Regions from separate parts of the Homo sapiens genome. Here region 1 is linked to region 2. The links come from fine-mapping of genetic effects on gene expression. A gene starts in region 2. The other region holds a variant in brackets. All regions are shown on one strand. Distances are between the middles of the regions. Region 1 overlaps ATP5MC2 (ATP synthase membrane subunit c locus 2). Region 2 holds the start of TARBP2 (TARBP2 subunit of RISC loading complex).

Region 1 (8,000 bases), 170 kb before region 2:
CACAAATGGTGGGCTAGAGATGAGGGTTTCTGTTGAGGCAGCAGGCCCAGAAAGGTGGGGTAAGGCCAAGCTAGTGGGGCCAGCATGAGACCCTGCCTGCCAGCTTTCCTGTGAAGGATTAATTAACCTCCCCAGATTCTGCTGTTACAAGGAAAAGAAGGTTTAAGGAAAGGAATAGTTAAGTTACTACCCCTGTGACTCATCTACACTGAGGAAAAAGCCCGTGATGATTTTGGAGTCCTGATTCTGGATAGTGCCTTTGCCCAAGTTGTAGGCTAACAATTGCAGAGTTGCCATGGTTAGATAGCCAATGGTGGGATCACTTAATTGCCACCCCTTGTTGTGGGTTTATTATATGCCAGCACCACATTAAACTCTTTATGTATGTTAATTTGTAAATGAACATACTTAATCCCCCTAAGAGCTGCATTTTACAAAGAAGATAATAAGGTATAATTCCCTTAGAAAAGAACCACCCCTTCTTTTTCTAAAAGCCTTAAAGAACTATTGGATTTTGACCCAAGAAAACCTGAATAGTACGGCAGCAAAATTGGGTTAGAGTTACATATAGGCAAAAATCAGAGTTCTAGATAGGACAAGAGTTGAAGACATCCATTAACTTAAAAGTAATTAAGGCTGGGTGTGGTGGCTCACACCTGTAATCCCAACACTGGGAGGCCAAGGTGGGAAGATCTTTTGATGCCAGGAGTTCCACAATAGCCTGGGCAAAAAATAAATTAAGAGCAATTAAGATGTTGGATTCAGAAGTGTTTTAACCTGGGACAATCTGAGTTCAGTTCATTTAATGAAGTGGTATTTAATAGCCCTAAGCATTCACTGAGTATTTCAGCCTGTGACATATTAGAAAGCATGTAACTTAAAAGATCCAAGTTCAAGTCTATCCTCTACCACTACCACAGTTTCAAGACTGGGTTTAGGGTCACGCTCTTGCGTTAAGTATACCTAATAATCATCTGGGAAACTTGTTTGAAATACAGGGCACTTGAGCCTTATTCCCAGAGATCTTTTTTGTTTGTTTATAGACAGGGTTTCACGTTGTTGCCCATACTGGACAACTGGCGTGATCATAGCTCACTGAAGCCTCCAGCTCCTGGGTTCAAGCAGTCCTCCTGCCTCAGCTTCTGGAGTAGCTGGGACTACAGGTGCACTTCCACCTCACCTGGCTAATTTTATGTTTTGTAGAGATGAGGTCTTGATGTTTGCCCAGGCTGGTCTCAAACTCCTGGCTTCAAGTTATCTTTCCGCCCCAGCTTCTCAGTGTTGGGATTACAGGAATGAGCCACTGAACCTAGCTCCCCCAGAGATCTTGACCAGGAAGGTCCAAGTTGCGCCCAAGAATATGCATTTTTTAATACGTACACCACCCAGATAATTCTAGTTCAGATGGGCTTCTCACTTCACTTGGAGAAACCCTGCCTTTAGGTTTTTAACTCACCTTCTGTTTGAGGTAAGTTCACTTCTACCAACTTAGATACCTATAGGGTGTCAGATCTTCTTTAGATCTTGGGGAGACACAATTTAATACTTTTTTTTTTTTTTTTGAGACAGTTTCCCTCTTGTTGCCCAGGCTGGAGTACAATGGCGCAATCTTGGCTCACCGTAGCCTCTGCCTCCTGGATTCAAGCAATTCTCCTGCCTCAGCCTCCTGAGTAGCTGGGATTACAGGCATGCACCACCATGCCCGACTAATTTTGTATTTTCAGTAGAGACGGGGTTTCTCCATGTTGGTCAGCCTGGTCTCGAACTCCTGACCTCGTGATCTACCCGCCTCAGCCTCCTAAAGTGCTAGGATTACAGGCGTGAGCCACTGCGCCCAGCCACTAATACCTTTTGGATAGACTAATAACAGAGTTCCTCCTTGATCTTCCTCATCTTATTAATACAGGAAATTGAAGTATTTTCAGGAATCAGATACTTCCAGGGATCAGCAAAGAGATTGTTGGAGACCTTCCAGTGTCTTGGCCTTCAACAAATATCTCCCAAAACTACAAAGACTCTAAAGGGCAACTTTTTGTTTGTTTGTTTGTTTGTTTGTTTGTTTTGAGATGGGGTCTCGCTCTGTCACCCAGGCTGGAGTGCAGTGGCGTGGTCTCGTCTCACTGCAACCTCCGCCTCCTGGGTTCAAGCAATTCTCCTGCCTCAGCCTCCTGAGTAGCTGGGATTACAGGCGCGTGCTACCACACCTGGCTAATTTTTGTATTTTTAGTAGAGGTGGGGTTTCACCATGTTGGTCAGGCTGGTCTCGAACTCCTGACCTCGTGATCCGCCCGCCTCGGCCTCCCAAAGTGCTGGGATTACAGGTGTGAACCACGTGCCCAGCCTAAACGGCAACTTTTAAAGGTCCAGATGATGAAGTCTTGAGAAGCGTTCCTTTTGAATAAAAACTAAGGAAAACTTAGGCAAAAGACACTCTGGGAAAATTCCTGTGGCAACTGCAAATCATGAGGCTATGGAAATGGGTAACAGGTCTTACCTGAACCCAAGTGTTCACTTGTTCAGACCAGGGGAAGTCACTTCATTATAAGGAAATCTTGGGAGCTGTGTGGGGTTTCTGGAAGAAGTCATGACTTCAGGGTTTTAATTCTATTTCTGCCAATGACTTAAGGTCAGTCACTGTTTTCTGGGCCAGTTAAGCTTTCTAGGGCCCCTTTTCTGCTAATAAGGATATAGTTTAGTGAATAAGGAGCGTTTACAATACTGCTTCTGTAATTCCAGCTCTCCTGCCACAGCTCCTCACCCCCTGAAAATGTTCGCCTGCTCCAAGTTTGTCTCCACTCCCTCCTTGGTGAGTACCTGCTTTTCTGGGAGAGTTTTAAAGGAGAGACATCTTGTCTCTCTCTTTCCATCAGACCTTGTTCTTCACAGCAAGGCTGGGGGAGAGGAGGTCCAGGCGGGCAGATCACTTGAGGCCAGGAGTTCAAAACCAGCCTGGCCAACATGGCGAAACCCCATCTCTACTAAAAAAACGAAAACCAGTTGGGCATGGTGGCGGGCGCCTGTAATCCCAGCTACTCAGGAGGCTGAGGCAACAGAATAGCTTGAACCCAGGAGGTAGAGGTTGCAGTGAGCCAAGATCGCACCACTGCACTCCAGCCTGGGCGTCAGAGCAAGACTCTGTCTCAAAAAATAAATAAATAAGTAAATAAGTAAGAAAGATTCTTGGGGAGGGAAGGCCCTCTGCTATGATTGCGTAACAGGATAGAGTGAATGCTTGCTAGATACTCTCCTGCCCCATATCCCTTGGCGGCCAGTTAATTTTTTTTTTTTTTTTTTTTTTGAGACAGAGTTTCGCTCTTGTTGCCCAGGCTGCAATGGCGCGATCCACCACAACCTCCGCCTCCCGGGTTCAAGCAGTTCACCTGCCTCAGACTCCCAAGTAGCTGGGGTTACAGGCACCTGCCACCATACCCAGCTAATTTTTGTATTTTTAGTAGAGATGGGGTTACACCATGTTGGCCGGGCTGGTCTCAAACTCCTGACCTCGTGATCCGAGTAGAGACAGGGTTTCTCCATGTTGGTCAGGCTGGTCTTGAACTCCTGACCTCAGGTGATCCGCCGTCCTCGGCCTCCTAAATTGCTGATATTATAGGCATGAGCCACCGTGCCTGGCTGTGCCCAGTTAATTCTTACCCAGCCATCTTAGGAGAAGAATAGAGATGAGAATCTAGACCAAGATCAAGTTATTCCTACTCCTGAAACTATATGTCGTGTAAGCTGGCCATCCAGAGTGGTAAATATAAGTAGATTACATAACTTGGACTGAGTATGCACTGTGTGTAGGATCTTGTCCTGAGTTAGCCATAGCTAAGGAGTTCATTCTGGGACTTAAATTTGGATAGGAAGCTAAAATTTACATAAATACACATTGGAAAAGTATTTGACTCAGAAACAACAGTATGGAAGAAATTTTTGAAATAGTAGCTAGAGGAGGCGGTTGGTTCATTCACAAATAAAAAGGAGTACCATTTATTGAGCATTTACCATGTGCCTTAGCACTCACTGAGTTTACTAATTGGTATACATAATCTCATTTACTCTTCAAATCAACCCCAAGAGATGATATTTTGATTTCATAAATGAGAATACAGGCTTAGAAAGGTTTAAGTGACTTATCCTGAGAATACACTGCTGATAATAGAATTAAGATTTGAATCTCACTTTATCTGATGCCTAAAGCCCTGGCTATGAATCACCATGTGTCTGTTTTGGTGTCACTGGCTTGGGGTTAGTCAGAAAAGGCTACCAGAAGGAGGTGAGTTTTGAGCATGAATCTTTGTTCCTATTTTCCAAAAGGATGTGTTCAGGGAAAGTTACTGGCTTCTTTCTTGTGGGCTGACCATTACCCATACAGAAGGCCCCCAACTTTAGATTAAGATTTTTTTTTTTTAACTTTATGATGATGCAAAAATGATATGCATTCATTAGAAACCATACTTCGGGCTGGGCGTGGTGGCTCATGCCTGTAATCCCAGCACCTTGGGAAGCCGAGGTGGGTGGATCACCTGAGGTCAGGAATTCAAAACCAGCCTGGCCAATATGGTGAAAACCTGTCTCTACTAAAAATACAAAAATTAGCTGGGCGTGGTTGCCGGCGCCTGTAGTCCCAGCTACTTGGGAGGCTGAGGCAGGAGAATTGCTTGAACCTGGGAGGTGGAGGTTGTAGTGAGCCGAGCCGAGATCACGACACTGCATTCCAGCCTGGCGATACAGCAAGACTCCGTCTCAAAAAAAAAAAAGAAAGAAAGAAAGAAACCATACTTCGAATTAGGAATCTTTATCTTTTCCCAAGCTAGCAATGTGTGGTACAATACTCTGTTGCAATACTCAGCAGGAACCCACAGCTCCCAGTCACCTGCCCAATC[A/C]CAGGGGTAAACAACCAGTACTCTACGGTGTACTGTGTTGCTAGGTGATTTCACCTAACTGTAAGCTAATGTAAGCTAGTGTAAGCTTTTTGAGCACATTGAAGGCCAGACTATGGTGTTTGGTAGGTTAGCAGTATTAAATGGTTTTTCAAAGTATGATGGATTTATTGGCACATAACCCTATGGTAAGTTGAGGAGCATCTGTATATATTTCCCTTGTTGAGTGAGGCAAATGCTTCTGAGGCTTAGATTTCTTCTTGTTCTCAAGAGCTATAAAAGGATATAGCAAGGTTGGATGCTCCCTTATGGCCCAAAGGAAGTAGACTTTCTTTCCTTAAAGCAAAGTCTGAGAAGCAAGAGAAATGGTGTGGTTCTTTAATTTAGACTTTGCTAAAAGGAAGAATGATCCAAAACTCTAACGTACATGTGAAGATGGAAAGGCCATGAGAGGAAAGAAAATCTTGTCTGATGATGTAACAACGTGGCATAGTTCTGAAACTCCTCTCCAGTCTTCCTTGACCTTCCTGCCCCTGTATGTCATTCCTGCTAGGTCAAGAGCACCTCACAGCTGCTGAGCCGTCCGCTATCTGCAGTGGTGCTGAAACGACCGGAGATACTGACAGATGAGGTACCTTACAGTGGAGTTGGGACTGTGGTTTTGGGGGTGATGGGTGGGGAGGGTTACCTGCCAGAACCAGGAGGTAGAATGCTGAGGACAGTCATCACAGGCTAAAATTCATGAATGGCCAAGGCCATGGGCTTTAGGTGGAGATGGAGGACACTTAATACACTGTATGCTATAGTGCTCCAGCTTTTGCCACTGGCAGCACATGCCCCTGTGCACTGCTGCTAACTGGTATTACTTGGCCTAGTCTACTGACTTCAGTTGGAAGCATTTAGTCCTAGGAAGATGATCTCCTTGGGGCAGCAAGAATAGACTAGGGCCTCAGTCTTACACTTCTTGACCACACCTGAATCTTAAAGGCATTTGAAGTCTACATCCTACGTTAAAAGGTTCTACTTGCCAGCATTTTAGGGCGTTAAACAATTTTCTGTTTGGGGGAGAAACAATGGGATTTGGCAGCTTAAAGGGTTTTAAATGGTACAAAAGTTACCAAAGCAAAAAACTTTACCTTCTACCTGCCTCTTTTTCACAGAGCCTCAGCAGCTTGGCAGTCTCATGTCCCCTTACCTCACTTGTCTCTAGCCGCAGCTTCCAAACCAGCGCCATTTCAAGGGACATCGACACAGCAGCCAAGTTCATTGGAGCTGGGGCTGCCACAGTTGGGGTGGCTGGTTCTGGGGCTGGGATTGGAACTGTGTTTGGGAGCCTCATCATTGGTTATGCCAGGTAAGATAAGTTGGACCCTCCACTGGTTATCTGATATGCTTTCCAAAGGTCAGAAAATATTTGGGGGTCTAGAACTATACTATCCCACACTGTAGCCACTAGCTACATGTTGTTTGTTTGTTTGTTTGTTTTGAGACAGTAACGCTCTGTTTCCCAGGCTGGAGTGCAGTGGCGCAATCTCAGCTCACTGTCACCTCTACCTCTGGGTTCAAGCGATTCTTGTGCCTCAGCCTCCCAAGTAGCTGGGATTACAGGCACACACAATGACGCCCACCTAATTTTTGTGGTTTTAGTAGAGATGGGGTTTCGCCATGTTGGCCAGGCTGGTCTCAAACTCCTGACCTCAAGTGATCCACCTGCCTCGGCCTCCCTAACTGCCAGGATTACAGGCATGAGCCCCCGCGCTTGACCTGAATTTTAGTTTTAATTAATTAAAAATACATAGTTTCAGTTTTCAGTTCTTCAGTCACGCTAACCATATTTCGAGTGCTCAGTAGCCAGATGTGGCTAGAGGCTACCATATTCAACAATGCAAATATAGAATGTTTGGCTGGGCACAGTGGCTCACTAATCCCAGCACTTTGGGAGGCCAGGGCAGGTGAATCGCTTGAGGTCAGGAGTTCGAGACCAGCCTGGCCAACATGGCGAAACCCCATCTCTACTAAAAATACAAAAATTACCTGGGTAAGGGGGGCGTGCACCTATAATCCCAGCTATTCAGGAGGCTGAGGCAGAAGAATCGCTTGAACCCGGGAGGTGGAGGTTGCAGTGAGCTGTGAGCCGAGATCATGCCACTGTACTCCAGCCTAGGTGACAGAGTGAGACTTTGGGGAAAAAAAAAAAAGAAAAAAACAAATATAGGCTGGGCGAGGTGGTTCATGCCTGTAATCCTGCACTTTGGGAGGTCAAGGCGAGTGGATCACCTGACGTCAGGAGTTTGAGACCAGCCTGGTCAATATGGTGAAACCCTGTCTCTGCTAAAAATACAAAAATTAGCCAGGCGTTGTGGTGGGCGCCTGTAGTCCCAGCTACTCGGGAGGATGAGACAGGAGAATTGCTTGAACCCGGGAGACAGAGGTTACAGTGAGCCAAGATGGTGCCACTGCATTCCAGTCTGGGCAACAGAGTGAGACCATCAAAAAAAAAAAAATTTATATATATATATATATATATATATATATATATATATATGTGTGTGTATGTATGTATGTATTAGAATGTTTATATCATTGTGTCATTGAAGAAAGTTTCATGAACAGCTTTGGTCTAGAGCATGTGTTGGCAAACTAAGGCCTAAGGGCCAAATCTGGGCCATAGCCAGGTTTTGTATGATTGAGCTAAAAATAATTTTATGGCCGGGTGTGGTGCCTTACGCCTATAATCCCAGCACTTTGGGAGGCCGAGGCGGGCGGATCACGAGGTCAGGAGTTCGAGACTAGCCTGGCCAACATGGTGAAACCCCTTCTCTACTAAAAATACAGAAATTAGCCAGGCATGGTGGCAGATGCCTGTAATCCCAGCTACTCAGGAGGCTGAGGCAGGAAAATCACTTGAACCCTGAAGGCGGAGGTTGCAGTGAGTAGAGATCACGCCACTGCACTCCAGCCTGGGCAAAAGAGTGAAACTCCATCTCAAAAAAAAAAATAGTTTCGCATTTTTAAAAGGCTTCATTTTTGTTTTAAAGCAAAAGAGACTATATGCGGCCCACAAAACCTAAAATTATTTACAATGTGGCCCTTTACAGAAAAAGTTTACCTTCCCTGTTC
Region 2 (8,516 bases):
TTCCAGGCTCTAGTAGACAGCCCCCTGATTTCATTCCCATTCATCATCACCAATAAAATGAGGACGGATCCTGGGCTGGCTGAGGCTCTGTGGTCCTTGGCTCCTTGCCCTGTGCCTTCTCAGCTTCAAGGCAGGCAGTCTGTGTCAGAGGTAGAGATGGCACCCACAGAGGGTACCAGAGCTGCGCAGATACATGAGCCCAGAGGCAGAAAGAGCAGGGAGCAAAGGGTGCACATCCATGAGTCCAGCTGGGGCTTCACTTGCTGCCTGCCATGATCTTGAGGTACTGCAGGGCACGGCGGGCAGCCTCACCACGGGCTGCCTCCCTGGTGGTTGCAGAGCCATGACACACAGTGGCCGGCTGGGTGGACAGTTCCACCAGGCACTGGCAGAGTCCACTCAGGCTCAGCTCCTCTGGAGAGCAAGAGAGAGGAGGGAGGCAATGTTGGGGGAGGTAGCCCTGGGGAGGGGTGCGTTCACGTTATCATCACCCCCTTCTACTTGCTCCGGTCCAGCCCCCACCATCCCCTGGCTCGCTCCCCAGCTAGCCATACCAATATCCAGGTAGCTGACGTGAAAGGCCTGCTCCTCAGAGAGCTCACTGAGGACACGGCAGCAGGCAGGGCCCAGGGCACCCAGGGAGCCCAGGGAGCAACTGCGGAGGGACAGGATCTTCTCTCCTACTGAATTTCGTAGAGAATCCCAGGTGCAACCTGGGCCCCGGTTTCGAAGACCATCCAGGCGGGAGCCCACACCCTGTCAAGATGGGAACAGTGAGAAAGATGAAGCGAGAGACTGTGGGACCCAGGCATTGAGACATTCAACGTCAAAGGAGAACAAAGCACAAAGAATGCTTCCTCCAGCTTGCCTCCCCCCAGTCAATCCCTGGGTGGCCCCTTCTAACTACCAGGCCCTGGGCCAGATGGCCAGGGATCCCTCCTCACCCCAGTAACAGAGCTACAGAGCGGGCCTACAGTCAAGGCTGAGTCGGCCCCAGGAACCCTGGGTCTGGTAGGAAAACTGTGGCAGAAGCAGACCTAGGGCCCAGAGAGGCTCACTGCTGAGTCACAGACCCAAGTCCCTGGAGCCCTGCCCTGGCATGGAGGATGGGCCACGGTGCCCGGCCCACATGAGCCACTCACAATGGAGAAGTGGTCATCATCAGGCTCCACCTCATTGCCATCCCGGGCATCCAGAGGCACCGTGTGCACTCGAAGCAGCATTTTGGCCGCCGCATTCCGCTTTGCCAATTTTTTGGAAGTGCCACTCCCTGCATGTGGAGAGAGGGCTGCTGGGTTATGATTCCCCACAGACCCAGTGCTTCCACCCAGGTCATACTTGGATTGAGGGTCCCCCCAGAATGTCAACTGGAAAGGGGAACTCAAGACCTGCCCATGCACGTGAGAACCTGGTCAGCCAGAGAGAAGGGGACAAATAGGGTGCCAAGAAGCTAAAAGGAAGGGGCTGAGCTAGGGACTGTGAAGCTAAGAGAGCAGGGGGTGTAGCAGAGTGAGGCCAGGAGCTGCTTTGTGGCTGGGGCCAGAGTGCTGCGGGAGAGGAGTTGTGAGAACCCCTTCTTGCCCAGTTACCAATCTCAATGAAACGCTCCACTCGACAGGTCATGGTGAATTCTTTGCGGTGGGCTGGCCCAGACTCCTGGGTCACTGTGTACTCCGGCAACCGCCAGCCTTTCTGCACCACCAGCTCCTTGGAAGGGAGACACAGGGTGCATGAGGCTGAGTGAAAAAAGGCTTCTCACACCCACGCTGGTCCCCACGCAGGAGCCTCAGACTCTAGGTGAGAGGAAGGAGAGAGGGGGGTGGAAAGGGCCTCAGTACAAGGAACCGCCCCCACCCCCAAACACACATAGCCTTCCCTCATGGCCCCTGGCTCAAGGGAAGACAGGCATGCATGGGAAATGAGGATGGGACACACCTGCAGAGCACCAACGGGGTTGCACTCAGACTGCTGAGGGGAGACAGGGGGCTGCAGTTCCATGGGGGGGCTCCTGAAGGAAAAGGCACAGGGCCAAAGTTGAGGTGAAGGGTTCCATCTGAGCCTGCCCATGAGCTCCAAACCTAACCACTACTTTAGATTCCTGACTACCATCTCCCGATTCCACCGGGTGGGGAGCTGTCTGTCCACACATCTAGCCTGCTCCTCCTGCTCTAGCCGGCTTCCTTCCCCCTCCCACTCAAGGGAGGCCTTCTCCAGGCCCCAGCCCATTTCCATTCTGGAACACTTGGGTATCATCTAAGCCAGGACAGTGGGAGAAGAGCTGTATTTCCAGTCCCAGAAGTGCCTGATGGGCCTCAAACACAGAACTGACATGTGGTCAACCCAGAAGAAAATGGGGCCTGCAAGACCCTTAAACATGGTCGGACATCATTCATAAGGCTGTCTGAAAATCACAAATGACCTCTTGTCCCAAGAGCTTACCAGCTGCTGTGATTTCTTCAAGTTCTGGTTCCCAACTATTCCATTCTGTTTATTCTCAGACTTCCTCATGCCTGACCAGCTTGGGTCCAAGGACTGAGGGACCAAAAACCAGAACCCCTTCCTCCACCCACCTCAGGCAGTCAGGGGACACAGATACCTGGTTAGGACTACAGATGGAACTGGGGTAGCAGCTGCTGCAGCAGTAAAAACCGGAATGTCCTCAGGCAGTGAAGAGTCTAGGGGAGAAAAAGAACTTCCCGAGGGGAAGGGGGCCTTTGATTCACACCCATGTATAGGGGGAAGAGAGGGGTGGGGGACCCACGTCCTCCTGACCTCCCAATCCCCTAAGAGAACTTCCAAATTGAGCCAAAGAATCAGGGAGGCTCAACCAACAGCTTCCTCCTCGGATCCTTTGCTGCCAAACACCGGCGAAAAGACTGAGAAAAGAGAGTCTCAGAGAAGAGGGTATCTTTGTACCCAAGAACCAGAGGAGCAACAAACTCCAACCTGCGCGTGAAGGAAGGACATCTTGCTAGAACAAGGAGGTATGTTGGGGAGTAACTCCCTTTAGCCTCAAGCCTCTACCCCTCTCCCTCCCTAACCCAGGCCCCAACCTACTGCCACAACCCCTCTATGGGGCTAACCAACCCCTCCACCCCAAGAATTCTTCATAGCAGCAGAAGCCCTGGAAAACCCTGTTCAGGTCCAGAGGGACTCTCAGGAAGAGGCCAGGTCAGGGTGGCTAAGTGTCACCTGGCCAGGCCTCGGGGCAGAGTGGGTGGTGCAGGGCCTGGGTTCCTTGAAGGGCTTCTGGGATGCCTCGGTTCCTCCCTCACCTGCTGTCCTCCAGGGCCGGCTCCAGCATGCTCCCCCCTTTGAGGTGTTTGAGGGCCACCTCAGCTGCCTTGTGCTTGGCTGCCTTCTTGCTGGGGCCCTGACCTGAGAGAGGGGGCATGGGCAATACTGGAGGTCACTGAAAGGACGGGAAAGAAACCAGCATCCCACAGCCTCTCTCCTCGTAGCCAGAGGGAATCAATCAAGCCCCTTCTGACCAACCTCCCCCTGCTGAAGACTGGAAGTGTTTCACTAATTGCTGGAAGGAAGAGCCCTTATCTTTCCGTTAGCTTCCAGAATTAAGCCATGCCAAGCAGGACTTCTGAGCTCAAACGCCTTGGGTGGACTTCTGAGCGCAAATGCTTTAATTTCCTTTGCAAAGCACTTTCTTTTCCCTCAATAAATACAGAGAGCTGGAATAAGAGAGGGTAGGCTCTGGAGTAAAAGCCCCACTCTGCCACATACTAGGCATGTGACCATGCACCAGCCATTTACTATCTCAAACACTCAGTTTCCTCATATTCAACATGGGCGGGCGGGGGGAGGAGTCGGGGGGGCGGATACTACCACCTACAATCATTGGTTAGACTGAGGTTTAAAATTAAACGGGAATTTGGTTAAGCACCGGGAACAGAGCCCAGCACGCCAGGCACTCACTCCCCCAAATACTCCACTGGGATTTCAGTTATCTTCTCTTACTTTTCCTCTAGGGTGATGGGGATCTGCCAGATCACTGTGGGAGTCCTGCTCGCTCCTCTAACTCTCCCACGTCCTACCCACCTTCTTACAGCCCTGTTCTCCCAATCCAGTCAGTAGCTTTTCCCCTGAAATCTCTCCTTCCCTCACTGGCCTTGGAGAAAAGGACTGTGAAGAGAGAGACTCCAAGAAACAAAGCCATGGGGACCTGCAAATGCACACCCCAGCCAGGCTGCCCAAGCCTTCCTCACCAGTGCAGCTGGTGTCGCCAACGGTGACCCGGAAGGTGAAATTAGGCTGGTGGGCTTGGCCCTCGGCTTTGAGAAGGTCGTACACAGGCGTCTTCCCTATTCTGGTCCCATACTCCTGCAGAAGGCTGATCGGGGTCTTGCCTGGGTTGGCGGCCAGCATTTGCTCTATACTGGGGGAAGGGGCACAGACCCACATCACACCTCCCCTCTCTGCACCCACCTAGCCAAGCACTTCCATACCAGACCTAGGCACATTATGGGGGACATAGGGTCCAAGGAACCCCAGACAGTCTAGCATCCATTGGCTGGGTTCCAAGTGGAGGTGCAGGCTGGAAAAGTAGGGCCCACTACCCCAAAGCAAGGGGGGAAGAATGCATTGCTCCTGCCTCAGTTAAGGTGGGCACGATCCTGTGCCCCAATGCAGGTTGAAAGTGCATACCCCCTGACACAGTGCAAGCCAGGAACCCAGTACCCACCAAATGCACTGAATGTGGGGGCATAAAGCCCAGTGTTCCAGTGCAGTCTGGGAACCGGGCCAACCCCAAACTATTTAGAGCTGGAGGCAGCAGCCACTGCCCCGGTGCACGCCGGGAACCACTGCCCACTGCCCCAGTGCTTGCCGGGAACAACCCTCAGGCCAGGTGCATGCTGGGGCCGCGCCGCTACTCCCTCCGCACGGCCCCACGCTTTTCGCCCTGAAGGAATCGGTACGAGACGGCTCACCTAGGCAGCCCGCAGCCCGTGGTAGTGCCGGAGCCTTGCTCCTCTTCACTCATTCCCTCCTCCGTCCCCGCGGGCGCCACCGTGACTGCAGCCTCCACGCGCCCCAATACACAGCCGACGAGCTAGGGCCGGGGCCAAGCCCGGAGTCGCGGCCGGTAGGGCCCGCCGCGGGGCACGCTGGGATATGGAGTCCCCCGCCCACCCTACTTCGTGAGCCTCCATCTGGAGGGGAGCTATCCGCCCCACAACCCTCTGCGTGCGTGGCTCGCCCGGGCAGGCTGCACCGCCTTCTGGGAGGAGCGGGCCCTCCGCCGTCGCTTCTCGAGAAGGCCGTATTTTTTTGTTTGTAATACCGTCCCGCCTCCTTCCTTCCGCGCCCCCTCTCTCCCGGTCCGTGAAGCTGTGGACATGCGTACTAGCGGAGGGGAAGCCGCTGGGTAGGGAGGCGGTAAGGACTCACTTGGGCACGGAGCCTTTTGGATCGCGAGAAAACTACAGAACCCAAGAGCCCGCGCGCCATCTGTGTCGCAGCTGGAGAGGCAGGGTCAAGCACGCACGAGAAGCTTCATGGCGTCATTGGTTACTCCCATTGCGATTACTTCCCCTAGGTGCACTGAGATTGGTTACTTCGACTAAAGGGGCGGAGACAAGGAAAAGTCAGCCCCCCCCGACCCCGCCTCCTTGATGAAGGAAGGTTGTGATTGGTCCGGAGAGGCTGCCGTCGGATCCTGGCTCTTTGCGGTCTGGGAGGGTGGGCCTTACCTAGACGCCGGAGGGGACCGATCTCTGTTTCCGCAGGGCTCTGGAGCTGGTGCAGGTTTAAGTCCGTCTCAGACAGTCCCCTCAACCCACAGCCTAAGCCCCTTGCCCTTGGGCCTCCGTGACACAGAACTTGCTTCCTTTTCCTAGGTCGTCCTTCACCTCCCTTCAGGTGTTGCTTCTTTTGTGAAACCTTTTTAGAACCGCTCTAGTGAACCTCTCTTTAACTGGCGAGGAAACCTCTGGGGCCTGATAATCAGGCTGTAATGTGGGACGACAGGATTAGAAGGACTAGGCACCTTGGTGGTCTTGTTCCCTCTTCCATGAGTCTTGGGTCTCTCAGCTGAAGAGAGCAAAAGTGAATTTTGGCCGCCTAAGATTAATCAACTGATCTGGGTGTTGAGCAGACGCGCATTGTTTAGTCCTAGAGCCCCATTGCCTCCTCCCCCAAAGTTGCACAACCACTGGGCTGAGGGAAATCTTGTGACCTTGGAGAGAGAAAGGGAGAGACCACATTAAAAAAAAAAAAGGTTCTAATGAGTGTTCTGAGAAGGGGTCAAGAAAGATGTCTTACTCTGAGCCGGGGTTGGAGGTCCAGAGGAATCTTGAAATGATAATGAGGGGTCATCCAGGAACACTGGAGGAGGATGGGGCCTAGAGCCGAGTGAATTCCAAGTGGGTGAAATTGGAGTGAGTGGTGACAATCAAGGGAAGGAGAGCTGGCAAGATCGGTATGATAGGGGGAGCAATGCCAGAGCGCTAGGGATCCCAACTGAGGGGCTGCTCTCTCCGATGTAGAAAGGAGTCTATAAGACGGGTCATAGGGGGTTCCTGTGGAATCAGCCTGAGGCCTGAGGTGGGACCTCCATAGGACACCGCCAGCAGGGAGGCGCGGGGCCCAGGCGGGCCAGGTACGAGCCTGGAGCGCGCCGGATGGCAGCAGCGGGCTCCTTTAAGAGGCCGGCGGCTCCATCGCAGCATCCCCCGCTCAGGGCGTGTCCGTCCCGGGGGGCCAGGGGCGGGGGCCCTGGAAGGAGCGGGAGTTCAAGCCGAGCAGGGACGGGGCTAGGGGTCGGGGGGTGGGGGCAGAAAGCTGAAGCTGACACCCGTGCATCCGGACACCGCACGAGCATCGCCTGTGACAGCGCCCCGGGTCCGGTGGAGGGCAGCGGGGGGAGGAGGGAAGGAGGAGGAGAAGGAGGAGGAGGCGGGAGCAGCATCCGGAGCGGAGCTGCAGCAGCGCCGCCTTTTGTGCTGCGGCCGCGGAGCCCCCGAGGTGAGAGCCTGGCCGAGTTGTGGGGGGGTGGGGGGCAGGGATGGGTCTGGGTCCTGGGATCCGGGCGTGGAGGGAGGGTCGGGATGCAGATGTGGCCTGGTGCGGGGTGATGGCGTGGGGATGCTGAGGCTGTGGGGATGGAGGAACTGGGGACCTGGACCCGACGCCTGTGGGGCTGGGAAGGAAGGGAATGGAGCGGAGGGATGCCGCGGCCCAGCTTGGAGACGAAGGGCCTCCAGAGCTGGAAAGGACCGTATTGGGGTGGGGTGGAGGATGATTGGGGGACAGACTTAAAGGACAGAGGGCAAGAGAACATCTCCTCCCACTCATCCTCAGGAAGAGAGAGAGGGAAGGAGGAGGGAGAGTTTTGGCCCCCTCTAGGGAAGGAAAGGAAGGGCAAGGACTGATATACCCACCATCTCCACACACACACACACACACACACACACACACACACACACACACACACACACACACACACACACACACACACACACACACACACACACACACACACAGCAGGCTGGACCTGAAGATTAGTCAGAGAGCACCTGTTCCTGCATGCCCAGGCGTTGGTCCCCCTCCCCTTCAAGCTGTGATCCTCCTAATCCCCTCCAGCTGTGGCATTCACCTCCAGCTGTGGCATTCACCTCCATCCAGCTGTTGCATCCTCCCCTCCCCCATTCACGTGTGGGTTTCTCCCTCCTCTTTCTCTCCATCTCCTCTGGCTCCCCTAACCCATCTCCCCCAGTCAGGCCCTCCAAAAACCTCCTCCCTTTCCCACAAACACTCCTCAAACTCATTGGCTTAAAAATAAACAAGAGTTGAGACTTGCTGGTAACCAAGGCCTTGACTGAGAGGAGGGAAGAGTCAAGGCTCTGTAGACAGTGGGAGGAAACAGTGAGGTGTCCCTTAGAATTAAGGGAGGAGTCCTACCTTGTAGATGCTCATCTGCTGCCTTTTTCAGAGGAGCGTAGGTGAGTGGCCTCCAATCAGAAGGGAGTGCACATGAGGTCTCCTCACCCCACCCAGAGTCGTCTCAAGCCACAGTCAGTGCATCCCTCTAAACACATTTCCCTTGCAGTTCTCAAGGTGGACTCCATTGCTCTAGGAGCTCTGAGTTTCAGCCAGAGGGTCCTACCAAGCTAAGGCTAACAGAAAGGATTTAGGAAGGATAGGACTCAAGTGCCCCCTGAGCCTTCCTGTCCAGACACTGAAGTTTCTCTGAGCTTTAGGGCCCCACTCCCTCCTATCTCACACTTACAGGTGAAAAAAAGTGTGTCCCCTCAAGCGTATCATTCATCCACTCACTCCCATTGTCAACTGGGGTAATGTTAGGAAAACCCCAGCTCTCAACATGGAGACACCAGCTAAATATCCATCCCAGTTATGGACAGAGGAGGCAAGAAGTTAGACATGGCTCAGGATTTCCTAGGCTTCCTTATAGCTGAAGAGGGCAGAACCCTTCTAAAAACCAATTGCTTTTCCCCTCGTGGTGACACTGTGGTAGGATCAGGCTTTTCTAGGAAGAGGACTCT

What was found. PIP is the estimated chance that this variant, and not a neighbour inherited with it, causes the effect.
Region 1: its variant is fine-mapped to the expression of TARBP2 in pancreas (GTEx, PIP above 0.99).

The regions. Positions count from the first base shown.
Region 1 is chr12:53,667,382-53,675,381 of GRCh38, reverse strand. It overlaps ATP5MC2 (ATP synthase membrane subunit c locus 2), which reads left to right. Exons shown (of 5, transcript NM_005176.7): 2 at 2,737-2,806; 3 at 5,434-5,511; 4 at 6,041-6,234. The coding sequence starts at 2,768. Among named protein-coding and RNA genes, the nearest start is that of ATP5MC2, 4.7 kb to the left of the region's middle. The variant A/C (reference allele first, on the strand shown) is at 4,884.
Region 2 is chr12:53,497,889-53,506,404 of GRCh38, reverse strand. It overlaps TARBP2 (TARBP2 subunit of RISC loading complex), which reads right to left and starts at 5,122. Exons shown (of 9, transcript NM_134323.2): 1 at 4,944-5,122; 2 at 4,221-4,390; 3 at 3,276-3,378; 4 at 2,597-2,692; 5 at 1,936-2,008; 6 at 1,590-1,707; 7 at 1,143-1,270; 8 at 555-756; 9 at 1-414. The coding sequence starts at 4,996. The coding sequence ends at 257. It overlaps MAP3K12 (mitogen-activated protein kinase kinase kinase 12), which reads left to right and starts at 6,947. Exons shown (of 14, transcript NM_001193511.2): 1 at 6,947-6,978. RefSeq lists an enhancer at 5,188-5,487 and a silencer at 6,581-6,830.